Linked DNA regions of Homo sapiens: all the other regions are linked to region 1. The links come from fine-mapping of genetic effects on gene expression. A gene starts in region 1. Each other region holds a variant in brackets. All regions are shown on one strand. Distances are between the middles of the regions.

Region 1 (4,068 bases):
AGGCACTATTAGCTAAAAGTAGTGTACATTAATTAATTTTAAAAATCTTTAATTTAAAATCACCTTTTCCATGATGAATCATCTCAAAGTCATAGCTTTTATTCAACAGCTTTTTGCAAGTGGGCATTTTTCAGACATTGGGAATCCCAGCAGGGCCCAATTAGCATGTTGGATTATTTAGGTAATCCCTGCACTCTACTGAAATGCAACTTTTCATCTTTGACTTCTCTTTACATTCCAACACTACCTGTTTTCAGGAGCTATCAGTTTTTTTTGTAATCAGCCTCATATCCATTCTAGGGATGATTTTCATATTTATCAACAATTATTTTCTCATTTATGCTGAGCCCTTACAGGATTTTGGAAAGTCAAAGGTGAACTACAGAGGATTTTCCCTGGAGCTGTTCACAGCCAGTTGGGAGGCATGGACACAATTATGGTTCAAAGTGATTAGCAGAAGTTTAGGTCTATCGGGGCACAGCAGCAGGTACGAGTAGAGCTCCAGGGAAGGGGCAGAGAAAGGAGACATCAAGGAGGAGATCACATTTAGTTTGATACTTTTAAGGTGATACAAGAATTTGCTAGGTAGGAAAAAGAATGTATTCATTATAGGCAAGAGCCACGGAGGGGGACGACAACTGGAAGGAGGTGCCACTGGGAAGGAGGTTGCAGTGAGAGTCTAAGGGGCAAAAATGAGGAACAAGTGAAGGGGCATAAATGAGGGGTCCTTAAGGGGGAAGATGTGCACGATCAGATTCAGGTGTCAGAAAGGCAACTTTAACCAAGTCTCTTCAGATTCTCTTTTTGCATCTCCTGAATTGCAGACACTAGGACTCAATCATTTTTTAGAAGCTAAAAAAAAAGTTCAGGCAAGATGAATTAGTATTAAGGGAGTGTTTGAGGCACCTGTGGCAGTGTTGTGCAATAGAAGAGGTGGAAGGAGGATGGCTAGGCTTTTCTTCCCTGATGTCCTACTACGAAAGGTTCCAGAGCTCTTGGCAGAGACAGTGATTGGTTCCGGGGCGGCGGTGGGGGGAGGGGGGCAGTGGTGGTGGGGGGTGGAGGAGCTCAAAGAACTCTGGAGTAGAAGCCAGAAGAGCTGACTAGCAGCAAGACCCAGACATCTCCCTTCTTCCACCTCTGTTTCTTCACCTGTGTGCCCAATATGGTTTGAGCTGCATCATCTTCAAGTTCCCTTCCAGCTCCAAAACACTGGGCATAAAACAACACATCAACTTCCAAACCCACTCTGAACACTAAACTCAATTTAACCAGACATCTTTTCAGCTGGAATGATTTGCCTTCCACTTTGTTTTCTACCTCAGATGCCTGGGGGACCACATGGAGAACACCCAGGGGAAGAGAAATTGATGGAGTGGGGTGGCTGGGTGCTGGCTGCTGACCTCCAGGAAGTTGTCACATCTGTTAGGTTGGGGCTGATGTCCCTCATTCTATCTAAAGAACTGTAGCTTGAGAACTTTCCTTTTGCTTGGTAAATACTGCCCTACACTAGAAGCAGTCGGTGTTCATTGACAGAAACAATGGGCAGCCAGTGTATTTGCCCAAAGGCAAGTCAACAAGAGAGGCAGCTGAAGGTGCTTGTGCTTGTTGTAGCAACTGGCAAGGGTGTAAATCAGTTGTTGCTTTTAGCCCATAATAATGAGATTCAATATTGTTTTTTCCAATACCTTTGATTGGTTCCAATCATATTACTTTTTCAAACAAATCTTCATTAGTAACAATCAATGCAAAAAAAAAATCTGTAAAAGTAACAAGGTGCAATAAAAGTAGATGAAAGACCTTACTTGATGTGTTAGAGGGCTACCCTCTAACACATAGCTCTTTGGTAGCTCTTCGGATAATTTCCCGTTTCCTTTTTTTTTTTTTAAGTTTATGTCGTTTCTTTAGTATGCTTTCTAGTAGTAAATTTTCACACCCCAGTTTTTCCAGGAGATTTTGGAATCAGCAGACTTCTCAGCCCACACCATAAAAAGCAAATTAATCATGTCTCTGTTTCAGCCAATTGAAGCTTTTGTTTTTTTTTACATAAACTGCCAAAAAGTTTATGGTTTTCTTAATATGCCCATTAAAGCTGGTAAATTACAGGGACGCACACTTCCTGGAAGACAAAGACTGAAAGAGGGTTAAATGAAGTGAGAGCTGTAGCCAGTTTAGACAGCTGCAGCGAAAGCGAAGTCCCCTCTCCATCCCACCCCCCAAAAAAAGGAGTTCTAATTTTCTCCACTTCTTTCACAGAAAGGATTAGATTTTCTGGGTGTCACCCTCCCCGGCAGAGTTCTGTAGCCTCGGGCACCCTACCAGCTTTTGCGATCCTCCTTCCCAGGAGTAGGAAGTGGAGGCGGCTTACCCCGGCCGACGGGAACGAGCGCGATCACCAGGGCGAAGACTAGGGCTGCGCGGGGAGCCTGCATGTCCGCTCGCCTCGGCAGAGGCGCGCTCAGGATGCTGCGCCGGGCTGCAGCCTCTCTGAAACGTGAACATTTCCTGTTTCCTGCTTGTTTGGGTCGGTGCTGACTTGAAGGAGAGGTGTGTGCCTGTTTTTTAGGAAGTGATGTAATTCTGCAGGAGCCTGTCAGACCAGCAAGGATTGCAAAAGAGAAGTTGCTGTTGAAGCACTGGTTCTATTATCACGCCTCTCCAGCCCTTTGGAGTCCCGGCCTCCAGCTTTTGAAACCGTCCCCGGGGCAACAGAGTCCCTTGCTCAGATGTCGTTCGGTATCTGGGACTGGGAGGGGTCCTGGACCACACGCATTCTCACTCTGTGATTTTGCTTATCCCCCAGGTGAGGCTCCGGGGCTGCCTAGACCCTAGGAAGAAGCTGTCCTGTAGAACTTTCTGCCCTGATGGAAATGTTCCAAGTCTGCGCCGTCTGATACAGTATCAGCCACATTGGCCACTGAGCATTTGAACTGAGGCTAGTGCTGATGGAATTTAAATTTTATTGAATTTTTATAAAATTTTAATAACTCCAAGTGGCTAGTGGCTGCTGTGTTGGATAGCGCAGGCCCAGACAGCAGGGACAACTGCATCATCAGAAAACTGCCAGACCACTTCTCTCCGCCAGGTCCATTCTCCTTTCTCCACTCTGGAATGCCCTCCTCCCACCAAGGCCCACGCCAGATGGAGGTGGATGCCACACCCACACCTTAAGGTTATGTTCTGCTTCCCCAGAGAGAAATGATCTTTTCAAGGTCCATTTCCAAAGGAGAATATGCTCTGAGGGTGGAGGTAGGGGTGAATCTGCATCTCACCTTCCTTCCTTCTTACTTGACAATCAAGTTCTCAGACAACAAACAAAACAGGACAGAAACGAAATAGAATAATGGTAGAAATCCTATCCAATCGAAACAATACAGAAAGGTTGTGTCTAGTATACAGTGGAGATTAGTGTGTGTTGGGTGTTCTATTGGAGGTCCTTCCCTTGGTTTAGGTTTAGGGCCTAAGCATTCAGAATGCAGTTTCATAATCGTGGTGCCAAGAGAGACAGACAGATGGAGAGAGGGGTAGTGTTGAGGCATCAGACACATCTCATCTCTAAACCTTTCCCTGCAGATCACCATCTGAGTCATGACTTCCCGTCGTTTGTCTTCAGTGATCTGGTTGGTGCAAACGTATGAGGTGACTGGAATTCCTTAGCCCCTGACATAGCTGTTAATTTTTCTTTAATGCATTGCTGCTTTTCAATGTCATTAGTCACTGTTTATCTCAGTTATTATTCACAAGAAATAGGTTGGTGATTCATGTAAGGATCAGTTTGTTAATGGATTTACAGTATGCACTTTAATGTTTTAAACTGGCAATTAAGTCAATTCTTGATAAAATATGCTTTTTGCACCACAGGTGACAATACAGAACAAACAGCAGGAGAAAATAGACGTGCTCAAAACTGGGTGATTGATTTGAAAACAACAGAGAAAGAACTATTAATTAAACACTTGCTGAGCATGTGAATAGATCACGGGCTCCAAGACCTGCTGGTACTGAGTTGGGGTGGCAATTATTCCTGTACAAGCACGTGTTTCTGCAGCTGTGACACACACGTGCAAG
Region 2 (4,068 bases), 41 kb before region 1:
AAGAGTCATGATAAAAGGGACTTTTTCTTGTTTGCACCACTATCTAGTGGCATTTGGGAGGGTGTTGTGAGTGTGGGGTTAGGCAATAAGGGAGTGTGTTTTCTACACAGAAGTTAAAACAATAATAAAACCAACCAAAAGGATCTGTTTTCTGTCGTTACCATGTGTTGGCAATGCTTAACCAGATCAGGGATGAAATTCTCTTCAACTTGAGGGCAGACCCCTCCTAGCACCCTCCTCCCACTGACACTTTGCCCCTGGGCAGTGCCAGGCACATAGCAGGTATGAATCACGGAAAAGATGCTAAGATGGAAAATAAGAATATGAAACACTCCCCTCCCCCATGATTCCTTTGTTGCTTTTCCTATTGATTTCTTTCAAACATGAAAACCATAGTGTCCACTTCTCATAGTATTTTGTACATCTCTGGTCCTTATTAAAATCCTGTGCTGTCTTTCGGATTCCATAGCTCAGGAAGAATATCCATTCAATGAGGACAGAGGAAAGTAATGAACAAGACTGGCCAATGAGACAAGGATAAAGTTCTGAAAGGCCTGAGATTACAGACCCTAACAAGACAAGCTTGAAGAGTTGAAGTCTTTGCACACAATGTGGTATATTCAGTGTAGGATGGTTATCAGATTGACTCCCTTTTCCCAGAAGCATGGTGGTCGTAGGTTCTATGGACTTAATAGATAACAGAGGTTCTATGTCAGGCATGTCTTTCTAGCATCAAGGAAAGTGGAACCCTGTAAATGAATTCCAGAAGGCTTTGTTTATCAGGAGAAAGGAGAAGTGTGTCTTCCACTAAATTCAATTTTTAATGACTGTTACATACTTTCTGAAGCATTAAATTCACCTGTATACTACTTCAATGACAGAGGAAGAATCATGCACAAGGTAAAAGCCAATGGAAAACTTTGGGTGATAATGGTGTGTCAATGTAGGTTGATTGATTGTGATAAATGTAGAACTCTGATGGGGGACGTTGATAATGGGGGAGGCTGTGCATGTGTGAGGGCAGAGGGTATATGGGAACTCTGTATTTTCTGCTCAATTTTGCTGTAAACCTAAAACTGCCCTAAAAATAATCTTTTAAAATCCCAGTGTGGGAGGGGGAAGAACAATTGCCACTGCATAAGAATAATTAGTTTCACTTGCGTGGTGCTTTAAAACTTAGCTACTGCCGGGTGCGGTGTCTCACGCCTGTAATCCCAGCGCTTTGGGAGGCTGAGGTGGATGGATCACCTGAGGTCAGGAGTTCAAGGCCAGCCTGACCAATGTGGTGAAACCCCATTTCTATTAAAAATACAAAATTAGCCAGGCGTGGTGGTGGGTACCTGTAATCCCAGCTACTTGGGAGGCTGAGGCAGGAGAACTGCTTGAACCCAGGAGGCAGAGGCTGCAGTTAGCCAAGATTGCACCATTGCACTCCAGCATGGGCAACAAGAATGAAACTCAGTCTCGAAAAAAAAAAATTAAGATAAAAATAAAACCTAGCTAGGTGGTTTCATTCTCTTATATCATCCTGTGAAACTAGAAGGACAGATGTTCTTATTTCCATTTTTCAAGATGAAGAAATTAAAACTCAGAGAGCTAAAGTGACTTGTTTTAGTCTAAAGAACAAACAAGCATTCAAATTAGGTCTTAAAATGAGTCTTCTAAGTCCAATGACCCACAAATGCACTTTCCACCTGTATCTATAACAATTCACAAGCTTTTAGAGAAAAAAGAAATCTTATTTTTGTCCCAGGGTAGATACTCAAAGTAAACATTTTATGGATTATCAATTTAATTAAAACATTAGGATAGGAAAAAGAAATGTACATAAAATTATGACAGAAAAGAAAGATTATCCAAATTATAAGGTGTTACTATCCTTTTAAAAACTTCAGACTGGGCGAGGCACAGTGGCTCACTCCTGTCATCCCAACACTTTGGGAGGCCAAGGCAGCAGAAGGATTGCTTGAGCCCAAAAGTTTGAAAGCAGCCTGAGCAACATAAGGAGACCCTGTCACCACAATAAAGTAAAATAAAATTAGCCAGGCATGGTGGACAAACCTGTGGTCCCAACTACTCTGGAGGCTAAGTTGGGAGAATCATTTAGGCCCAGGAGGTTGAGGCTACAGTGAGCTGGGATCACACCACTGCACTCCAGCCTAGACAACAGAATGAGAGTCTGTCTCTACACAAAACAACAAAACACCAAAAAACTCCAGAGTGATAAGTGGACTATTCTGAAATCACCAACATTAATGGGCCTATGCCAGTAATTAAGGAGAACTGAAAGTCTCATAGTAGATCAAACAAATTCCTGATTTCCCAGGATTGGTAGGTCCAGAAAGAAACCAC[C/T]AGGGAACACAGGGACAAAAATAATGCTTCGCCCACCAGTATTGATGTGTCTGGGTCTTAGGATACAGGCTTAGGATAAAGGAAGTGAATTTTTTTTTAATCCAGTGAGCTGGGTCTTAGTATAAAGGCAGTGAGTTTCTGTACATCAGTCCTAACTTCCTAATAATTATACTAGCAATAACCAGTGCTTATTGAGAACTTACTTTGTTCTGGGCTTTGTTCTAAATCCAATGTACTTTTCTTAGATTTTTTAATGAATAAAAAATTAACTTTGCAATATCATAATAACCTTTGAAGTAATCAGAAAGTGCCTAGTGGTACAAAGATCTGGGACTTGCCATTCTTGGTTCTCGAATGCTGGTGCTGGCATTACGAGAGGGCATAAAGTGAAGGCCTGACAGCCATCCTGTGAATGCCACACAGCTCTGGACCCACAGTGGAATGTAGACCTTCCCTTTTAAAACAATCATTTAACTATGTGAAGGCTCTAGCTCATTTTCTCATTATTTCAAAAATCTGACTTTTTTTTTTTGAAACAGAATTTCTTTCACTCTTGTTGCCTAGGCTGGAGTGCAATGGTGTGATCAGTGCTCACTGCAATCTCCGCCTTCCCAGTTGAAGGGATTCTCCTGCTTCAGCCTCCCAAGTAGCTGGGATTACAGGTGCCCGCCACAACGCCTGGCTAATTTTTGTATTTTTAGTAGAGATGGAGTTTTACCATGTGGGCCAGGCTGGTCTCGAACTCCTGGCCTCAGGTGATCTGCCTGCCTCAGCCTCCCAAAGTGTTGGAATTACAGGCATGAGCCACATTGCCTGGCCAAAAATCTGATTTTTAAGAAGATTTCACTGCCATACAATTCTGTAATGTTAAGCTTCTTCCATGTTGCCAACAATTTCAAAGAGCAAAAGGCAGGAATGTAAAAACCACTGAGGGTAGTTTTTAGCATCATTGAGGTTGCTCATCAGTGATAGAGTAATAAGATACTTAAGATATTTATGGAGTTTTAGTAGTGATCTGAGCCCTATACCAGACATATATAGTTACATATTTCCAGGTAAGATCAAAACATGGGGAAAATATTCCTTTGTAATATTCCCCCTGGCATTGTTGTTTTCTTCCACCTGCTTGTTAATCAATCTCTCTCTCTCTCTCTCTCCCCCTCTCTCTCCCTCTCTCTCTCCCCATTTCTTTTAGAGACAGGGTCTTGCTCTTGCTTGTTGCCCAGGCTGGAATGCAGTGGTACAATCATAGCTCACTACAATCCTGAAATCCTGGGCTCAAGCAATCCTCTCACATCAGCCTCTCAAGTAACTAGGACTACAGGCAAGCGCCACCAAGCATGACCTGGAATCTCTTTTAAATAGGATAGAATCCTTCCTGAACTGGCAATAATCTTAACATGAAAATGCCTAGGGTGGTGATATTGACCTAAATCTACAATAGGTATAGACTTTGGCATCAGAGCTGAGGTTTGTCTGAGTAAGACTGTGGTGGTGTGATGTGAGGAGAGATTTGGGATGGTGAATTCTTAAGTGAGGTTTAGGGGGGAGACGCAGGAAAAGGGTCCGAAGATAAACATCTGACTGCCCCCAACCATTGCCTAATAATCAGTATTCCCTCGCGATGCTCAGGCTTCAGGGGTTGCCTGGTGACAAGTGACTGACTGGCACCAGACTTCTGGTGAACATGGAGGGAGAGGATTTATCCTGCCTGAA
Region 3 (4,068 bases), 36 kb before region 1:
GGACACAATTCATCACTGCTTGGTTATTCTGTCCCTGCAGCACCCCAGTGCTCCAAAAGCTAGAATCTGCATGTCTCAGGATAGACAGTGGAATAAGATGGCTTCGCCTGAGGTTCCAACGTGTCTGCAGAATGATTTCCATCAGATTGCACGGTAGGAAAGAATTGGGTAAAGTGGGAAAACAGCTGATCTTCCTATGGTCATGAGTTCTTTTCTATTACACCACTCGTTATTTTTAAGGGCAAAAAAATTCTTTGATTCTATCACCTATGTGTCAAAATAACTCAGCTTTAGTTGTCAAATAGAAATGCCTTTTCCAGTTTTCTGGTTTTAGTGAGTATGACAGAATCATGATTTTATATTTCACAAAATCTCTGGCACAAAACGTAATACAACAACATAGCAAGAAGAGATTGCCTTTCTGTGGTGAATTTTTTTCTTCTACCTTTTTTTTTTTTTTTTTTGCATTTTCCAAATTCTACTATGTATGCATATTACTTTTAGCAACTGAAAAACAACAAAACGAGACTCCTGAAGGACTATCTCAATGACCCGCCCCATCCTCAAATAGAATGGCTTTACAGAGTCCTTCTTTCCTCAATATGAAAAACTGTTAGAAATTGTACAAGTTAGCTGAGTGGCTCTTTTTTGAAATCACACCTTGATAAGCCTCTGGTAGCAATAATTCTTTTTTTTTTTTTTTTTTTTTTTTTTTTTTTTTTGTTGAGATGGAGTCTCGCTCTGTCACCCAGGCTGGAGTGCAGTGGCACAATCTCGGCTCACTGCAACCTCCGCCTCCTGGGTTCAAGCTATTCTCCTGCCTCAGCCTCCCTAGTAGCTGGGAGTACAGACATGTGCCACACCCAGCTAATTTTGTATTTTCAGTAGAGATGGTGTTTCACCATGTTGGCCAGGCTGGTTTCGAACTCCTGACCTCAGGTTATCCACCCGCCTCGGCCTCCAAAAGTGCTGGGATTATAGGCGTGAGCCACCGTGCCTGGCCTGGTAGTAATAGTTCTTATAACCAGTCTCTGAATTTTCTAACTCTACTGTAGAGTGTTGAATTTGACAGACCCTAGGGTATTTTTTTAAGATAAATGGTAAAAAATACAAATGACATGATAATGCTGGGTTTTATTCATTTAATCTAAGTAGTAAAAATAATTAATTTTTAAAGGGAATTTGAAAAAGAAAAAGCAGCTGTCATCATTTTAAAGTCCCATTATTGATTTACTAAAAAGTAAGGAACATATACTTCCATTACTGCCAGATATCAATTGGAAATTGTTATATGGGGTATGTATATCACCATCTACATGAGCAATGTCCAATAGAGCATTCTAAAGTGATAGAAATATTCTACATTACACTGTCCACTTAGTAGCCATTGGCTACTAAACACTCAATATTTTTTAATTTTAATTTTAATTAATTTAAATTTAAATAGCCACATTTGGTGATTATCTATTACGTTGAACAGCACAGATCTATGGATACTACATTTGATAAAGTTTTATATCCATAGTCAGTTTAAAATTGTAGATCTTTAAATTCTGTAATGTATAAGGTAATGCCAGATGCTAACTTTTTCCAGATCATTTGGCCTCAGAGATTTCCTTTCTTGAATAAAATACCATTTTCTGCTTCAAAAAGACCATTTCAACAACTTGTACAGAAATAAAAACAAGTGGCAACAATTAAGCTGAATATTTAAGTATTGTCAGACCAGGTTTATTATCTGCATGTACCAGATCTAATGTGGGATTGGGTTCTTCTGTCTCACTCCAGGATTTATTGAGATATTTATAAAGCTGTTGCAGCCTTCTGTTACTAGAGAGGAAAGAAAAAAAACAACTTTAGGTTACCACATACCATTTCTATTCATGCTGTTCATCCATTTATCAAGCTCTTCCATTTCAATTTCCATAACAGAGGGTGTATCTTCCTCAAAAATAGGGCTAGAAATAGAGAGCAAAAGACTTGTTAGAAAGAAATGTGAAAGATGCCTAATTTCATTTGGAAAGAGACTAGAATGCTGATCCTGAGGAAGATGAACTTGATTCAGTGCCTTATGCTCTAGGGAAGCCTGGGGGCTTGCCCTATTCCAAACTACCAAACTTTAATAGGAAGAAAGGCTACCACACAAACAAACATACATTTATCACAGGTCCAAAAGTGGGGTGCCCACAGGCCCAACAAGTGGACAAAAAAGGGAACCCAGGAGGCTGACTGCTCCCCTGAAGGTGCAAAGTCAAGTCTGCAAGGCTCCCAGGGTGAGGCCCTTCCGGGGAGTTGCCATATGAAGCATTTTAGCCTTGCTTAATTTCACTTCCTGTTCCTTG[G/A]GGTTTTTTGATCAGTGCCCCAGGTCAAGAGGCCACTGTCAACAGGCTACAGTTATCACCTGTCCCTTCAATTCCCAGGCCTTTCTCTCTTGGAGAAATGGAGCAGTTGCTTTCAGAAATTCACCGCCCTCACTTGCAGAAGCTCAAAGTGCACAGTCAGGGGACAGAGTCCGTGGTTAGTGGAGATGGGGTTGGGGAAGGATGGACCACCAGCTCTGAAAGCAGCGTAGGCGGTACACTGCGTAGAGGAAGCGATAAAGTTTCTAAACCAGGAGGCTGCTTGGAAGATGGGGAGGATATGGCATCACCCCAGAACATGCTTCTGAGTGGAGGCTTGTTTTTCTCTCTCCCACCCCTCCTTCCCTCCCTCCTCTCCCTTCCTCCTGCTCCTCCCACTCTTCCCTTCTCCTCCTCTCTCTCTCCCATCCCTGGGGGTTCTTGCTGTGTGAACTTCTGCTTCGACCAGGGCTCCCTGCTAAATACCAGCTCAAGTATCTTTCCTGGTGATAAAATTTCTAATCAGAGTAAATGAACCAATGTCCTTGAAATACAGCTAGGGATAGAATATTTAACTGCTATGCACTTGAAATTGGTAGCAGTCAGGATTCTTTTCTGAATGTAGGACAATGAAATAAAACAGATGCCAAGCTGTCTTTGCCCAGATCACACTCACACGCTGGATAGGGTTTGGGGATGCCAGCACATCCTCCCTCAGGCTGCCAAGGATCTCCAACCCCGCCTGGGAAGCAGGAGAGTCCCGCAAGATGTCAGAACAAAAACACCTGAAAAGGCAGCTGTCCACCTTAACAGTTGCTGTTCACACCCCAGGTGGATCAGAAGCAGCAGGGAAAACTTACACTTTCACGTTTTCACTTCCCAGTTCATCTAAAAGGAAATGAACATAAAGGTCATGTTAGCTTTGTTCTTCTGTAACAACTTTTAATTTCAACAACAGCTGAAGTCTCCTTTACAAAGAGAGCAAAATGACATTAAGTAACATTTTTAAAGGAGCGATCATTAACTTAGAGTCAAAGAAGTGTGGATTGCCATATTAAAACGAGGTCCTAATCCGTGTGAAATCTGCTTTCTTTTAGATGTGGATGGTCTGCTGAGAACGCTCACTTCAGACCAGATGTTCATCCGTCTTTATTTTTTACATCCACAAGAAGAGGAAAACATTGGTAAGGAAAGGCAAGGGAGGGTGAAACAAGAGGGCTTGCTCCTTGGCCTCCTTCAGTAAAATGTCCCAGATCTAAAGGCTGCTGCTTCATCTCCTGTGATACACCATGCTGAACACTGTGACACTGTGCCTCACTCCTGGTGGAGGATGTGGGATCTTCCATCAAGGGCTCCCCTTGGAATTTTCCTTTTACCCCTGCTCTTGGCATGGCTGGATCCCTCACAACTTCAGGGTCCCAGCTTAAATACTCTTTCCTCGGGGAGGCCTTCCCCACCTACTCTATTTAAAGAAGGGCCCATCTTTCCTGTTGCTCCCCAGCTCAGCACCTTGCTTGCATCTTTCATAATATTGGCCACAATTTCTCATTGGTCAACCCGTCTGTTTGATTTTTTTTTTTCTGTCTGTCTCTCTCACTAGACAAAGTACAAAGGGGCAGGGATCGTGTCTGTCTTATTTATCGTGGTATCCCCTCAGCTCTGAGCCAGCTACCACAGTACCTTGTAAATGCCTAGTCAATATCAGTGGAATAAATGATTAGGTGTTAAC
Region 4 (4,068 bases), 510 kb before region 1:
TTTAGATTTAGATTACTTAAAATCAGGTAAAATTTAAAATTCAGTTCTTCAGGTGCACTAATCACATTTGCAGTGCTTAGTAGTCACATGTGGTGAGTGGCTACTGTATTGGACAGCACGGATATAGAACATTCCCACTGTTGCACAATGTTCTGTTGGATGTTGCTGGGTAGCCATTCAAGTAGCCACTCAGCTGTAGGGACTTGGTAGTGATTACAGGGGCCTGAGAGTTCGGTTCAGGCTGAAGTCATTTCCCATCAACTCCCAAGTGTCCTCGTTTTTCAGATCTTCTTTCGCCAGCTTGCACTGAGGCCAAACATAACTTCTTTACAGTCTTTAGATGACAGAGAAACCCTCTTCCATCCTATCAGAACCAGCCCCAGAAAAAATTTGGAAGTGGTTTTGGAAATTTAAAAATATAAGCTATAGGACAAAGCAAGTATTTGGGAAACTGGGGGAAAAAAAAGTTTTTATCAGGCTGAATAGATACCCTGGACCAAGAACAAATTCCCCCACTGCGATGGGTGGAATTGTGTATCCCTCACCCCAAATACACATATTGAAGACCTACCCTCCAGTACCTCAAAATGGGACTGTATTTGGAGACAGGATCTGTAAAGAGGTAATTAAAGTAAATTGGGGCCATTATGGTGGCCCCTAATCTAACATGACTAGTACCTTTATAAGAAGAGAAGATTAGGATGCAGATATACACAGAGAAAAAACCATGTGAAGACACAGGGACATGATAGCTGATATGATTTGGCTGTGTCCTCACCCAGATCTCACTTTGAATTGTAATAATCCCCACATGGCAAGGGCAGGCCAGATGGAGATAATTGAATCATGGGGGCAGTTTCCCCCATACCGTTCTCGTTGTAGTGAATAAATCTCATGAGATCTGATGGCTTTATAAATAGGAGCTCGCCTGCACAAGCTCTTCTGCCTGCTGCCATGTAAGATGTGACTTTGCTTCTCATTTGCCTCCCGCCATGATTGTAAGGCCTCCCCAGCCATGTGGAACTGTAAGTCCATTAAACCTCTTTCCTTTATAAATTACCCAGTCTTGGGTATGTCTTTATTAGCAGCATGAGAATTGACTAATACAACAGCCTTCTATAAGCCAAGGAGAGGCCTTAGAAGAAACCAACCTTGCTGACACTCAGACTTTGGACAGCTATTTGCCAGAACTGTGAGAAAAAAAATTCTGTGGTTCAAACCACCCAGCTTGTGGCACTTTATTATGGCAGCCCCAACAAACTGAGAGACCCAGCATGCAGATTCTCCATACAGCAAACCAGAGACCTCTGCAACACAGCCTGTCAAGATTTTTCAAATCAAGCTGGAGATTTTTTGAGTTTACATTGCCATCATCACAATTTTTACCTCAAGCATAACAAAGCAGCTGTTTGCACAGAGGATTATTGTTCCGTGCCTTCGCCTGCAGGGAAATTCAGCCTTTGATGCCGCTTACAGAGCCAATGGGACAACTGGAACATCAGGACGTGACAGACAAATTACCCATGAGAAAGGGCAGAACGTTTTAAAAGAGTGTTTAAAAAATCATGTTGCCTCCACTGATGTTAGCCTGTGACATCCCTTACCAATTTTTATATGTCAACTCTAAATTAGATCGGTTTGTTTATTTATACACATTGAGTAGAGTCATACACATGTATGATATATGGATTTAGCAACTGTTCACATAGTTGCTTCTCTTCAAGGTGTTTAACAAAAATTAACTAATGCTACATGCAACCTCCCATATGTTCACTGTAACATGCAACAACCCACAGAGAATGTGATGAAAACTTTAAAACAAAATGAAGTTCTAATTCGATTATTTTCTGTTTGATGGGATTCCTGGGGGAATTAACTACCAAATGGAGATTCAAATATCTAGTTAAGAGAAGGGATTAATATTATCCAGATAGTTATCTTGATATGTTAGCTTGTATCTGTAATAGATATTCTAGCCTTTATCTTTTTTCCTATTTTTCCTGGAGGCATTGCAATATTGCATTTAAAAAAAAAACCTTTCTGCCATATTGAGCAAAAGCAACATGATTAAAGTAACAAATGGAAACAAAACATGAGGATGGCATTTTAGGATTACAAAATGCTTTCCTGACAAATTTTCATTTCATGTTTACCACATTTTTTAAAGATTAGGTTATTATTCCTGTTTTAAAGATGGGGAAACTAAGTATCAGAAAGGTAAAGTGGGCCGGGCACAGTAGCTCACTCTGATAATCCTAGCACTTTGGGAGGCTGAGGCGGGTGGATCACTTGAGGTCAAGAGTTCGGGACCAGCCTGGCCAACATGGTAAAACCCTGTCTCTACTAAAAATACAAAAATTAGCCAGGCGTGGTGGTGTGTGTCTCTAATTCCAACTACTTGGGATGCTGAGGCAGGAGGATCACTTGAACCTGGGAGGTGGAGGTTGCAGTGAACCGAGATAGTGCCACTGCATTCCAGCCTGGGCGACACAGTAAGACATTGTCT[C/CA]AAAAAAAAAAAAAAAAAAAAAAGAAAGAAAAGAAACAAAAAAGAGAAGAGAAGAAAAAGAGAAAAGAGTAAAGTGATTTTCCAATACTTTCACAGCCAGTCAAGAGAGAGCCAAGCAAAAATTTAAACCTGGGCTTCCAGCAGTCTTTCCCAATGTCTCCAGATGCTCTACTCCTTCCACCAGGATTTATCACAAGCTATAGCCAACTTCTCACAAAAGAATGTTAAAAAGGTGCTTCTCTGTAAAGTTGCCCTCCTGGCCTTCCCTTCATTGGTGCTGTTGATAGTGGTGCTTCTCCTGCCTGAGACAAGCCTGCAAAGGTGGATGGATATTCCTACCAGGACACACAGGGTGAGACTGCAATGGCAACCTGCAGAGTCCAGGGCTTGCCCACTATGAAAATGGTCTCCAAGTGTGCTCCTGCTTCATCTGGTCACCAACCTCCTTATGAATGAGGTGGGGCCAGGGCTCAGGGATTTAGAGTGAGGAGGGGGCCTCCAGAACCCAGAGGTAGGAACAAAAAGGCAAAGGTGGTAACAGCTGAGATGAACTTCCTTCTCTGCATCCCCTGCCATCCTTTCCACCCGCCTAGGCCATCTGGAGTTTCCAATTATGTGTCTTGCCCAAAGCTCACCTACCCTACACAGGAGTATTCTAGAGCAGAATCCATGGTGTGGTAAGGACCTGCCACACCCTCAACCCCCTTTAGAGGAACACTTTCCTAAAGCACAGCATTCTGTCTCCAGCTTTGTATTAATACTTTTATTTAGTGGACCATTCATGCCACCTGGGCCACAACTGATGATACCCAGGACTAGTGCCCCAACCAATGCAAGCTGCTCACCAGAGTGACCAACCACCTCTGAGGTGGCTTGGCACCAACTCACCCCAATAGAGGTGCTCTATATTGCAGAGTGACAAGCTGACCCCATCAGATGTCTCGCCTGGCACATGTGAACATGCGTATGGGCTCAGGCAAATGACTCGGGTTCTCCATTCACCAGTCCTGACTGTGCCGAGACCCAGAGTGTCTGTGGCTAATGAAGAAAGATGTCCTAATGCTGCCCCTTTCCCTTGTGTCCTAGAAGTAAGGCCCATCACCAAAGGAGGTCTGGGTCAGTCTTCCCTTAGCAATCTTAAATAGCCCAACAGATCAAGTATGATTCTCACTTAGAGGGAAGTCCCAGGAGCCCAAAGAGAAAAGTGACACACACAAGAATAACATCACCAGCTCACATGAGGGACCTGGGTCCCAGAAACCCACAGTTAAACTATTCTTTCCACATTTTATTTTATTTTATTTATTTATTTTGAGACAGAGTCTAACTCTGTCACCCAGGCTGGAGGGCAGTGGTGTGCTCTCAGCTCACTGCAACCTCCGCCACCCGGGCTTAAGCAATTCTCCCTGCCTCAGTCTCCCGACTAGCTGGGATTACGGGTGCCTGCCACCATGCCCGGCTAAATTTTTTTGTATTTTTAGTAGAGACGGGGGTTTAGCCGTGTTGGCCAGGCTGGTCTCAAACTCCTGACCTCAGGTGATCCACCTGCCTCAGCCTCCCAA
Region 5 (4,068 bases), 53 kb before region 1:
AGGAAATAAAACTTTGGTGCCAGACAAGACAGTATCAAGATAAAGCCAAAGAGTTGCTAAAAACAAAAAATAATAATAATTCAGGCAATTGGTTGTCTGGGTTCTGCAATTTGAAATATTCCACTAGACACTAATATACAGGAACTCTTTTGGTCATTGTCACATAGCAGAAATGCTGCTATATGTGAAGTTGTTCTGGACTGCCTGTTATAGCTATTAAATGGAAACCCCAGAATTCATCCTGAATGTCTCTGAATGTGAAAAGTCACATGCGTTAATTTAATTCAGTATAAAATTTCCATGTTCTCCCACAAGGAGGATTTCAGCAGTGTCTTCCCAGCATGAAACCATGTCTTATCACTCCACCAGATTCAGAATTGGTACTAATTCTGACAGAAGCTGAAACTAAAGCCTATGTTTTCTTTAGTCAACATAAGGCCTTTTTTCAGAGATGGTGTGAATTAATAGTTTAAACCACCAAAATAAAAGAATAGACAAGTATTTTCTTAACATATCCATTTCCATTGCTAGAGCTGCGGTGATCAGCAGAAGCATCTGCCTGGCTGTCAATATCAAGGTGGATCCAGGCTGTTGGAACTGGTGGATCCAGGGGTTGGAACGGAGGAATACTAAAAATGAGACTTGGAACTTGGAAGGCCTACACCACGAGGGCCAATTCTGCCATAAGCCCTATTGCCCAGATATGTTACATAAAACATCCAGATATTACAGTGAAAGTCAGTGTGTGGCCAGACACAGTGGCTCACAATTGTAATCCAGCACTTTGGGAGGCCGAGGCTGGTGGATCACTTGAGGTCAGGAGTTTGAGACCAGCCTGACCAACATGGTGAAAACCCCATCTCTACTAAAAATACAAAAATTAGCTGGGCATAGTGACACAGGCCTGTAATCTCAGTTGCTTGGGAGGCTGAGGCAAGAGAATTGCTTGAACCTGGGAGGCGGAGGTTGCAGTGAGCCGAGATCGTGACACTGCACTCTAACCTGGGTGACAGAGTGAGACTCCATCTCAAAAAAAAAAAAAAAAAGTCAGGTGAGAAGAAGTAGCACATAGTGAAAATGAATATAATAATTTTACAGCTGGTCGGGCTCAGTGGCTCATGCCTGTAATCCCAGCACTTTGGGAGGCTGAGACAGGAGGACTGCTTGAGCCCAGGAGTTTGAAACCAGCCTGGGCAACATAGTGAGACCCTGTCTTTAAAAAATAAAATAAAATAATTTTACAGCTTTTGGTTCTCCTGTATTATACAGCATAACTAGGAGAAAAAAAAACTATGAAATTATTTTCCCAAGACCAGTTTTACTCATCTTTATCACATTTGTTTGATGTGGGTTATCCAGGAGCCACCTACATCAAGGTGGATCCAGGCTGTGGTCTTGCATTGGGTAACAAAGCCCTTCCCAGAGGGAGGAGTCACACCATTGGGTCAAGAGTCATGAATGGGTATTTTTACATATTTATTAAAACAAGTTTCCTGAGAAGTTTGACTAGGCTATGTTGTTGTTAACCTAGTTTGCTTAAAATGTACGAAAATGCAATCAAACTTACATATCTTTTAAATATTCGAAAGTCAGATTTTGTTCTGATTGCCCTATCCAATTAGGGCAAATTAGTGAGGGTTTTTTTGGTTTTTGTTTTGTTTTTTTAACAATAGTCTGAAACATAAAATTAAGTTTGGGTTTAAAAACAATTCTTGAAACTGTCATAAACATATGATATCTATTGATTAAACAGTAATAAAAAGACACAAGGTACAAGAATTGAGGCTTGGCTGTTCTGGCTGTATACTAACTTCATATACCCTGACAGAATAAACTATCTTTTTAAAAAGTGCTTTGTACACTGCACAATTATAGCTTTACCAAATAAAAACTCAATGACATGTCGCTGAAATTTGCTTCTTCTAGAATTTGAAATTATTTAAAATACTGCATGAGAATATTTTTATCATATTATATAATATGACTTCATCAACATGAAGTTCCAGGACCCCAGATGCCTCTCTGAGAAGTTCATTATTTGATAGGGTTGGATCAAATGTAAAGGCCCAGGTGTTCAAAGATCTTAGATACCTAAAGAGAGAAAGGGGCAAATGGAGGCTCTTCTGAGAGTCAAAATGTTGATGAGAAACAAACTGAAAGTAGCACACATAGGCAGAAAAATAGACAAGTTATGATTCAGAAAACAATTGTATGCAATTTTGGCATAAAT[A/C]TCTGAGAGTCACTGTGGGCCATGAGTTGAAAAGGAACATGCAAGAGAGCAAGGAAAACACAAAGCCTCATTCAGATGTGCTGGTGAGAATATGACAGAAAATCTGTTGAAGTTGTGTACCATGAAGTCTGTCTTTTGTCAAAGTTCTATGCAGTCCCAGGATAGCGTGATAGCAGTGGTTAAACACAACCAGCTAGTTATAGCTTTCATTGTATGGAAAGACCTCTCTGGTCTGGAACTCTGCCTTTGAAATTATCCACGTAGTTCAGAAGGCAAATACTTGTTAAAGGGATCCCAAAAGGTAGGAGACAAGTAGTTTTTGTTATGCATTAGGGCAGACTTTCAAGCACAAGACACAAAATTGAGCAGCAAATGTTTGGGTAGTCCCATCTCCCTTCGGTTTATATGTGGGTAGTAAAATAAATAAAATTTTCCTTCTTTGTCTCTTTCTTGAAATAAAATATCAGGTATCCAAGGAGAGCTGAGGATTCTCAATTTGCTAGATTGCTTTAAAGGGGTCAGATTTAGAAAATTAAGGAATAAATGAAGAACAATTTTACTGGAGTAGGTGTGGTCAATAGGCCCTTTTCCATTTTGTGCCATTGCTTTTAGCACAAGGATGTCAAAAATATCACATAGAATGTCATCTCTGATGGACTGACAGAGACCTCCTGTTGTGCTGTGTTAGGACATGAGGCTTATCCCAGCTTGGCGGGAGAGAATGCTAAGCATGATGAGTGAGATCTGCCACAGGCACGGATATTTCCTGCTCCTCTTCTGTTTGTTTCAAACCACCTTCAGGATCTCTGAAACATAGAAGGCTGACAGATGACTCCCACCTGCACATACTTCCTACCTACATGTCACATCCAAGGGAGGTATGGTGAAACAAGTGTGAGCTTTGCAGAAATGCTGACAAGCAAGGGAATTTCAGCTGAGGAGAACATTAGTTCTTTCACTGAAGATTCCTAGTTTCTCTGAGAAGTTCTTAAGGGTGACCAGACCTGGCCATGCTAGGGTCTACAAGTTACCAAACGCCACCTCATCAGGACTGTGGACCCCTCTCACTGTGTCTTCTTGGCAGGCAGAGCTTACTGACCCCCTGGGATGGTGTATTCATTAAAATACTTGCTGTGTTTGGTGTCTTTTCCATGACATAACACTCCTCGAGAAAAGTTCCTGCTGAATGTAGTTTACCTGTCCCACGACTTGAATAATCAGAGGAAATTATCCAAAGCTGGTTACTGACCCAAAAGGAAACCATCGATAAAACAGCTTCCTGATTTAGGCCCTAAGGAATGAAGCAGAAAGGTGACGAACATTTATCATGACCAGAGTGAGTTCAGTGAGCTAGAAGTTGGCTGAGAGGAGGCAACACATGTTGATCAGAAGTGAGCACATCACCCGCCTCCTTCTCCACCCTCAGAGGCAGCGATGGATGGCAGCCAGGCCTTTTCCTAGTACTTCTCAATTGCACATTCTTCCAAGTGCAAGTGATGCCATCATTAGGAAGAGTGGGCGTTGGAAGAAACAGCAAAAGGTTCTTGTGTCTATGTTGATTTGAAATTAATTAAATTTGTATCCTCTTCATCCTCTGTTGGCAGCCTCAGCAGACTCCCTCAGGGGCTGCTTCTCTTGGAAAACATGAGCGCCATTCAGGTTTAGGATTCACTGTCACTGTAAAAAAAAAAAAAAAAAAAAAAAAAAACAAAAAAAACACACACACACACACAAAACAGTAATATATTTCTTTCTTTTTTTTTTTTTTTTGAGACGGAGTCTGGCTCCGTCGCCCAGGCTGGAGCGCAGTGGCACAATCTCGGCCCACTGCAAGCTCC
Region 6 (4,068 bases), 270 kb after region 1:
TGTTACTATCCTTGTATCTTTGTTAACTAAAAATTAACTCAAAGAGACTGTAGATATGATGGTATAATAATAATTAAACTGTAATAAAGCAATTAGAAATAAAGACATATTACTGGGGATGAGACGAGAGAGATTCAGCTCAAACTCATCTTCTTCTCAGAGTTGGCTGATCCCATCCCCTGAGAAGCTCTGTAGTTCCTGACCCTCTATTACTGACATTCCTCAGGCCCCCTGGGAGCCTTCCACCAGTGTTAGCTGAGGGTGTGCGTGTCTGCCTCTACAGTTTGACCAGCTCTTAAGGGGAGGGCTGTATCTTAGCCATTTGGTATCCTCTAAAGGAAACAAAAGGTTACTGAACTGGACAGAACTGAACCAAGAGCACAAAGGGATCAGCTTATGAGGCATCAACAGATCAAAATTGGGGCTCACAAAGAAAGCAGAAATATTGAAACACCTCAGGTCATTCACTATGATGTCTGTAGCAATATAACATTGACCATCTAGGAAATAAGTAAAGTGGCTAATTAGAAAAAGAAGACCACAGAAGAGAGAGAGAGAGAGAGAGAGAGAAGGGAAGGATGGAAGGAAGATTGGTTTTTCTAAATTTATGACAAGTAATAAATACTTTATTCTCCCACACTATAATTCAGCTGTCAGTCATTCTCACCTTTTGTTATGATGCCGGTATGTTCCAGAATTTCGGGATATGCTCACAGTCCAGAACTGTAGAACTAGATAGAGCATTTCAAATACATTTGGGAAAAAATGTGCTTCAACTGGATTTTCATTTTTTTTTCCCCAAAGTTGGGAGAGAGGACAATTTCCAATTGACAGCCAACTAAAGTGAAAAAGAAAATGAAAAACCATCAAAACCCGAAAGCTAGGTCCATATTGGAGGATAGAGGAAGATCTTCACATTTTTGTTTTTCAGGACTTGAAGTGGGATGGAAATAGCCACTATGTAGTGTTACTCAAGTAGGTAAAGAAGCCCCCTTTGACATAAAAAACAAAAGTGGTTTAAAAGTTTCTTCCTTCACCTTGAGGACATTATGCTAAATAAGCCAGTCGCAAAGGACAAATACTGTATGATTCCCTCATAGGAAGTACTTAAGTAGCCAGATTCATAGAGACAGAAAGTAGAATGGTGGTTGCCAGGAAATGAGAGAGGGGAATGGAGAGTTAATTGTTTTTTGTTGTTGTTGTTTTGAGATGGAGTCTCCCTCTGTCACCCAGGCTGGAGTGCAGTGGCATGATCTCAGCTCACTGCAACCTCCACCTCCTGGTTCAAGCAGTTCTTCTGTCTCAGCCTCCTGAGTAGCTGGGACTACATGCACATACCACCACGCCCAGCTAATTTTTTTGTATTTTTTAGTAGAGATGGGGTTTCATCATGTTTGCCAGGCTGGTCTTGAACTCCTGACCTCACGTGATTTGCCCACCTCAGCCTCCCAATGTGCTGGGATTACAGGTGTGAGCCACCACACTGGGCTGAGAGTTAATTGTTTAATGGGTACAAAGTTTCAGTTTTGCAAGATGAAGTGCTCTGGGGATGGATGGTGGTGATGGTTATACAACAATGTGGATGTACTTAATGCCACTGAACTGTATTCTTAAAAATTGTTATGGAGCCAGGGCAATTTAGTGAGACCCCCATCTCTACAAAAAACTTAAAAATTAGCCAGACATGGTGGCTCGTGCCTGTAGTCCCCGTTACTCGGGAGGCTGATGCAGGAGGATTGCTTGAGCCCAGGAGCTGGAGGTTGCAGTGAGCTGAGATAGTGCCACTGCACTCCAGCCTGGGCAACAGAGCAAAACCTTGTCTCAGTAATAATAA[T/C]AATAATAATAATAATAATAATAATAAGAAGAAGAAGAAGAAGAAGAAGAAGAAGAAGAAGAAGAAGAAGAAGCAGAAGAAGAAAATGGTTATGGACCAGGCATGGTGGCTGAAACCTGTAATCTCAGCACTTCTGGAGGCCAAGACAGGAGGATAGCTTGCGGCCAGGAATTCAACACTAGCCTGGGCAACATAGTGAGACCTCATCTCCACAAAAAAATGTCTTAAAAATTATCCAGGTGTGACAGCATGCATCCCTAGTCCTAGCTACTCAGGAGGCTGATGCAGAAGGATTGCTTGAGCCCAGGAGTTTGAGGCTGCAGTGAGCTATGATCACACCACCGCACTCCAGCCTAGGTGACAGAGCAAGACCCTGTCTCTAAAAAAATAAATAAATAAAAAGTTATGATGGCAATTGTTATTTGTATTTTACCACAACTGAAAAAAAGTTTCTTCTTCCTTCAAAGGATATGGGAGGCAGATTTTGTAGTGGATTGATGAAGTGAATTGAAACTACAAAAGTTGTAGTAGAATAAACTAGAAGAGCTGATTTGGAGGTTTTAGCAAGAGTGATGGTGTAGCCACATGTCTCACTGAGTGGCATAGTGCTGCTGACTGTTTCAGTGGGTATCAGCACAACCCTGGCCCCCTGGCAGTTGCGGGGAAACTGTGAGTAGAGCCCAGGCCCCCTTCGCATCCTAGCAGGAAATCCTTGAAATGTTGAAATGAGTTGAGTGCGTTAATTACCTCATTACCTTATATTTCAAGCTGCCTTGTTTGCCACTCTTTGGTAGGAATTTTGGGGGAAGAGGTAACGAACTCTGCAGTATGCTGACTGTACCCGTGGCACCGACTTCTGTGGCGGTCCTGCCTGCATGTCCTGGTGTGACCAGAGGAGTAATTACCGGTTGATCGGAGCTGGTGGGAGGGAGGGGATGATGCAGCTCACTCATTGGCTGGGTTTGTTTATCCCTCTTCTTTGGGCAGTTTCTTGCCTCTGATTTGTCAGCTTGTGCAGCCAGTGAGTCCCACTGGGATCCCATGTGCAGATTCCACTGCTCTGAATGATTCCAAAACACCACCCAACCCGACCCGACTTTGTTTCTGAATGGCCCAGCTTTGAGAGAGCAAGCATTTGGGAAGTGAGATAAGCTAATTTACATGTGCAGTGATAACCCTCTTTAAAGGACTTCAACAGTCACCCTTATAACATTGCTTTGGAAGGATCGAATGCGATAAAGTGGAGAAAGAGACTCCTCAGACACCAGGCAAATCTGAGGATGCCGGGAGCGAGTGGGACTGTCCCTGAATGATATCAGTTGTCTCATTTTAATGTTGTTTGGGTGAAGTGCTGGGCTCTGTTTTTCCTGTAAGGTGCTCAGTCACAGCCAGCTCGGGTTTTCCCTTAGGAATATCACCCAATTCTCTTTGTTTCTGAAACACAGCTTGAGCTGTAGAGACGCCTGCTTCTACAGCTGGGCTGCCCCTGTGTTGGGGCACCGTGGGCTGCTCCTGTAGGGCCAGGGCTCAGGCCCCTGGAGGCTCTCTTGCCTGGGGAGAACATGATTCCCATCTGTCATCTCTCAGATACAGCTCTGGGGTCACCAGGGGACTTGGCCAGGCACACGTATAGCTTCTTACACATCTGTCCCCATTCCTGGAGAAAACTCACAATGCAAGCACCATGCTGGTAGGGAACGTTTGCTACGTCTCTATAGGAAGCTCAGTAATGTGAAAACCCACAGAAACTAGAGTGAAAAGGAGTCAGAGAGAACCAGGCTAACCTATCAGTTCAACACTGCTCTGGGAAAGTTATAAAATGATGTCTATGAGGCTTAGTTTCCTTACCTGTCCAGTAGAGATCATAAGAGTAATTTTCTCCTTCACTTTTCCTGCAGCAATGTCTCCGGATCTAGGCTGAGTGAAGAGAGTCCCAGAGGGTTGAGGGGTGAACAGGATGAGCGTGGGGCTTGGTTCACGTGGGGTGTGGGAGAGCACTGCAGTCAAGGGTTGAATGTAGCAGAAGGTGGCACTTTCATGAAAGGAATACGAAACAAGTCATTTATCCATCCTAGGTGAATGCAGAGGAAGTTCTTTGAACGTGCTGTGTAACTATATCAACATACAGATTCTTATGCATGGCCTTTTAATTTATTAATTCTAATGAACCCAGTTTTCTGTCTTAATAAATCGAGATTCCTTTTTTGGTATGACCTTTTAAAGGGTGTTGAGTT
Region 7 (4,068 bases), 30 kb before region 1:
AACAGACCAGGCTCTACCCAAGTGCAGTAAGAAACAGTATGTCTGCTTCTAACTTCCCAGGGGACATAGTGTGCAGGTGTCCATGCTCTCCTATAAAGCATTTCTGTGGGAGCTTTCCAAGCAAAACGCTGGTATGACCTTCCATGATAGTTGTATTTTACCTGAAAAAAAATCAAATTTTGCTCATGTAAATATTCTGCTTTTATTAACTTTTAGCATTCAGTTTTTCTGAAAAGTTGTCCATCTGTTAAGCAGTTAGTGATCACGTCTGTGTTAAAGCATTGGCTGATAAGAGAAAAAAATTCAAATAAAACTCTCCATCAAAAACTTTTGTGATAAGCCAATTGTTTTGAAATGCTAAGTTTTCTCTGTTGTTTTTTTTAAAGTTAGGCATATTTAAGGTAAAAATAATGTACCAATTTTTAGTAAGGATAATGTACAAATTTGACTTTCCCTCTGAGCGTAGATGTTCTTTAATAAACATTCTAATGTTCTTTAATTAAGTCACTTATTCAACAAACATATACAAGCAGCTAGTGTGTGTTGGGCTAGGCGTTGAGTTAGGTAAAGGGATGATAATAAGCTAGCACTTAGCACTTATGCCAGGTACTGATTTTTTCTAAGTGATTTGCCTATATAAACCATTTAATTCTCACAACTCTATGAGGTGGGTATTGAATTTGCCCATTTTACAGATGAAGAAACTTAATCAGAGAGTCACGGTGCCAGGAAGTGCAAGCCAACCAAGCAGTGTGTGTGGTTTGAGTCTGGACTCTCAACCTCAATGCCACACTGTCACACAAGACAAATAAGACTAGCTCTTGGTTCTCCTGGACCTTAACGACCACATCACCCAGAAAGAAAAGAAGAAAAAAGAGAAGGAAGGAAGGAAGGGAAACAAGTCACCAACTTATGACAATGTGAATACTGTGAACAAAGAGTGTGAACAAAGTATTCTGAGAGCACAGAAGAGATGGTAATTAATTTTTCCTAGGGGAGGATTATTCAAGGCTTCCTAAAAACTGGGCCCTAGCAGGGGGGCGTGGTGGCTCACACCTGTAATCCCAGTGCTTTGGGAGGCTGAGGTGGGAGGATCACTTGAGCCTAGGAGTTTGAGACTTGCCTGAGCAACATAGCAAGACTCCATCTCTACAAAACGTTTTTTAAAAATGTCAAAAACTACTCAGGCATGGTGGCACAGGCCTGTGGTACCAGCTACTCTGTAGGCTGAGGTGGGAGGATCACTTGAGCCCAGGAGTTTGAGGCTGCAGTGAGCTATGATTGTGCCACCGCATTCCAGCCGGGGTAACAGAGCAAGGCCCTGTCTCTTAAACAAAACAAAAACAGACCTGGGCCCTGGAAAAAGGGATGGCAGTTTGCCAAGCAGACAGGAAGAAAATTCCAGACAGAAGAAATGGTATCAACCAGGCATGGAGGCATCCTGAAAGTCAAGTCAAGTTCTGGGAATAGCAAATACTTCAAGTGTTGTTAGAGTGGAGGATGCATGGACCATGTCTGAGGTTGAGGCTGGCTCTCGCTTGTAAATGGCTTTTGAACCTTGAGACTTTCACAATGAAATTCAATGAAAAATCAATTTCTGGATTTGGAGCCTAAGAGCCTCACCATGTGAGTGGATACCTCCAACATCCCCCCACCCCTTGAGTCCATTAGGTAAAACCAGTCATGGTTTGGGGAAGGAAATTATGACTTTTCCTGAATTTTAAAAAATTTAAAAAGCTCTGTTTGCTTTTTTTTCTTAAGCTTAGAAAGAAGCCTCCATATGACCATGTTATTAGGAAGTCCTGAAATTTCAAGCAGTGGAGAAACATGTATTTCCCACTTCTTTGGAATCTATTATATGGGCCTCTGCCATGAAAGGAAATACTCTTCGGGGCTTCTTCCCCAGCTCACATTTGCCTCATCTGCTGACTGTGAAAGATTCCTCTGGCACAGAGACAGTGAGGTGGGCATGTGGGACAAGGGCATGGCCCCAAAGCCAGAGGTGCCCTGTCATGGGTGTGAGGGACATAAAGTGAGTTTTGTATACATGTATGACTATGTATTGTATTAGAGACGTTCCTATCCTTTGAGTAACTTTTTGGAAAGACTATAAAGGCTTTAACTTAAAAATCGAATCCGAGCGAGTTTTACTGGCACAAGCCAAAAGTACCCAAGTCTGCTTTAGACCTAGAACTACCCTGACTCCTAGCACGTGATGCTCCTTGAATCACAACTGAATACTCTCAAAGTGGGTCTCTGACTGAGGGAATTTTCTATAATTGGTTTTCGGATTGATGTTAGTAATCTTTAGACAGTTGAAGAATTTGATTATAAAAGTTAGCATAGCTTCA[A/G]TGGGAATAAGAACAATGCTTCCTCCAGGACTTTTCAAGATCAAATTGGGATGTGGGGTGGGGGAGAAAATAAAATCTGTAACAGAAATATAGATGAAAGAATGCTCTTCTGGTGGTGATGACCCCAAGGCCTCTAGCCTTCCCATCCCTAACCCTAATCTGACTCACTCCTTGATCAGCCTTTCTCTTTCCCCAGTGATGGGAAATGTTATACTGGCTTATTGGCTAAAATTATACAGGATCCTCATCTGGATTAGGGTCAAAGATGGCAGCAGTAGAAAAGCATCCCCCAGAAATATGCAGGTTCAGGTCCAGACCACTGCAATAAAGTGAGTATTGCAATAAAGCAAGTCACATTAATTTTTTAGTTTCCAAATGCATAAAAAGTTATGTTTTTCCTACAATGTAACCTATTAAGTGTGCAACATTGTGTCTACAGAGACAATGTATATACCTTAATTTAAAATACTTCATTGCTAGAAAATGCTAACGATCATCTGAGCCTTCCGCAAGTTGTAATTATTTTTCTGGCGGAGGGTCTTGCCTTGATGTTGATGGTTGCTGACTGATCAGGGTGGTGGTTGCTGATGGTTGGGAAGGCTGTGGCAATGTCTTAAAGTAAGATCACAATGAAATGTGTCACATTGATTGACTCTCTTTCACAAAGATTTCTCTGTAGCATACAATGCTTTGTTTGATAGCATTTTATCTGCAATAGAATTCTTTCACAATTGGAGACGATTCTCACAAAACCTGCCGCTGCTCTACCAACTATGTTTATGGAATATTCTAAATCCTCTGTTGTCATTTCAACAATGTTCATGGCATCTTCACTAGGAGTAGATTCCATCTCAAAAAAAAAAACAAAACTCTTTGTTCATTCAGAAGAAGCAATTTCTCAGCCACTTAACGTTTTATCATGAGATTGCAGCAATTCCATGGCATCTTCAGGCTTCACTTCTTATCCTAGTTCTCTTGTTCTTTCTACCACATCTGCAGTGACCCCTCCACTCAAGTCTTGAACCCCTCAAAGTCATTCATGGGTCTTGGAATCAACGTCTTCCAAAATACTGTTGATGTTGATATTTTGATCTCCTCCTATGAATCGGAAATGTTCTTAATGGCATCTAGAATGGTGAATTCTTCCCAGAAGATTCCTTCCCAGATTTATCAGAGGACTCACCATCTATGGCAGCTATGGCCTTACAAAATGTATGTCTTAAACAATAAGACTTGAAATTCAAAATGACTCCTTAATCCATGGGCTGCAGAATGGATATTGTATCAGCAGGCATGAAAACGTTAGTCTCCTTGTACATCTCCACCAGGCCTCTTGGGTGACCAGGTGCATTGTCAATGAGCAGTAATATTTTTAGTGGAATCTTGTATTTTGAGCAGTAGACCTTAACAGTGGACTTAAATTATTCAGTAAACCATGCTATAAACAAATGTGCTAACATCCAGGCTTGGTTGTTCCACTTACAGAGCACAGGCAGAGTAGATTTAGCATAATTCTTAAGAGCTGTCAGATTTTCAGAATGGTAAACAAGAATTGACTTTAAGTCACCAACTACATTAGCTTCTAACAGGAGAGTCAGCATATCTTTTGAAGCTTTGAAGCCAGGCAGTGATTTCTCCTCTCTAGCTATTAATAGTCCTAGATGGCATTTTTTTTTTTTTTTTAAGTAGGGACAGGGTTTCACCATGTTAGCCAGGC

What was found.
Region 2: its variant is fine-mapped to the expression of TMEM154 in whole blood (TOPMed, PIP 0.96).
Region 3: its variant is fine-mapped to the expression of TMEM154 in whole blood (TOPMed, PIP above 0.99).
Region 4: its variant is fine-mapped to the expression of TMEM154 in whole blood (INTERVAL, PIP above 0.99).
Region 5: its variant is fine-mapped to the expression of TMEM154 in whole blood (TOPMed, PIP 0.99).
Region 6: its variant is fine-mapped to the expression of TMEM154 in whole blood (INTERVAL, PIP above 0.99).
Region 7: its variant is fine-mapped to the expression of TMEM154 in whole blood (INTERVAL, PIP above 0.99).

The regions. Positions count from the first base shown.
Region 1 is chr4:152,677,502-152,681,569 of GRCh38, forward strand. TMEM154 (transmembrane protein 154) reads right to left here and starts at 2,496. Exons shown (of 7, transcript NM_152680.3): 1 at 2,369-2,496. The coding sequence starts at 2,432. LOC105377495 (a long non-coding RNA gene) reads left to right here and starts at 2,584. Exons shown (of 4, transcript XR_939359.3): 1 at 2,584-2,803; 2 at 3,086-3,172; 3 at 3,574-3,639; 4 at 3,862-4,068. RefSeq lists enhancers at 2,130-2,959, 2,270-2,579.
Region 2 is chr4:152,636,080-152,640,147 of GRCh38, forward strand. All of the region lies in intron 6 of TMEM154 (transmembrane protein 154), which reads right to left. Among named protein-coding and RNA genes, the nearest start is that of TMEM154, 42 kb to the right of the region's middle. The variant C/T (reference allele first, on the strand shown) is at 2,353.
Region 3 is chr4:152,641,216-152,645,283 of GRCh38, forward strand. It overlaps TMEM154 (transmembrane protein 154), which reads right to left. Exons shown (of 7, transcript NM_152680.3): 4 at 3,200-3,227; 5 at 1,873-1,958. Among named protein-coding and RNA genes, the nearest start is that of TMEM154, 37 kb to the right of the region's middle. RefSeq lists enhancers at 1,999-2,068, 3,214-3,273. The variant G/A (reference allele first, on the strand shown) is at 2,343.
Region 4 is chr4:152,170,901-152,174,968 of GRCh38, forward strand. No RefSeq gene overlaps it. Among named protein-coding and RNA genes, the nearest start is that of LINC02273, 72 kb to the left of the region's middle. The variant C/CA (reference allele first, on the strand shown) is at 2,507.
Region 5 is chr4:152,624,655-152,628,722 of GRCh38, forward strand. TMEM154 (transmembrane protein 154) reads right to left here. Exons shown (of 7, transcript NM_152680.3): 7 at 1-3,907. The coding sequence ends at 3,892. Among named protein-coding and RNA genes, the nearest start is that of TMEM154, 53 kb to the right of the region's middle. The variant A/C (reference allele first, on the strand shown) is at 2,231.
Region 6 is chr4:152,947,266-152,951,333 of GRCh38, forward strand. The region is part of intron 2 of FHDC1 (FH2 domain containing 1); the gene reads left to right. Among named protein-coding and RNA genes, the nearest start is that of FHDC1, 13 kb to the left of the region's middle. RefSeq lists an enhancer at 2,652-2,946. The variant T/C (reference allele first, on the strand shown) is at 1,835.
Region 7 is chr4:152,647,167-152,651,234 of GRCh38, forward strand. All of the region lies in intron 3 of TMEM154 (transmembrane protein 154), which reads right to left. Among named protein-coding and RNA genes, the nearest start is that of TMEM154, 31 kb to the right of the region's middle. The variant A/G (reference allele first, on the strand shown) is at 2,352.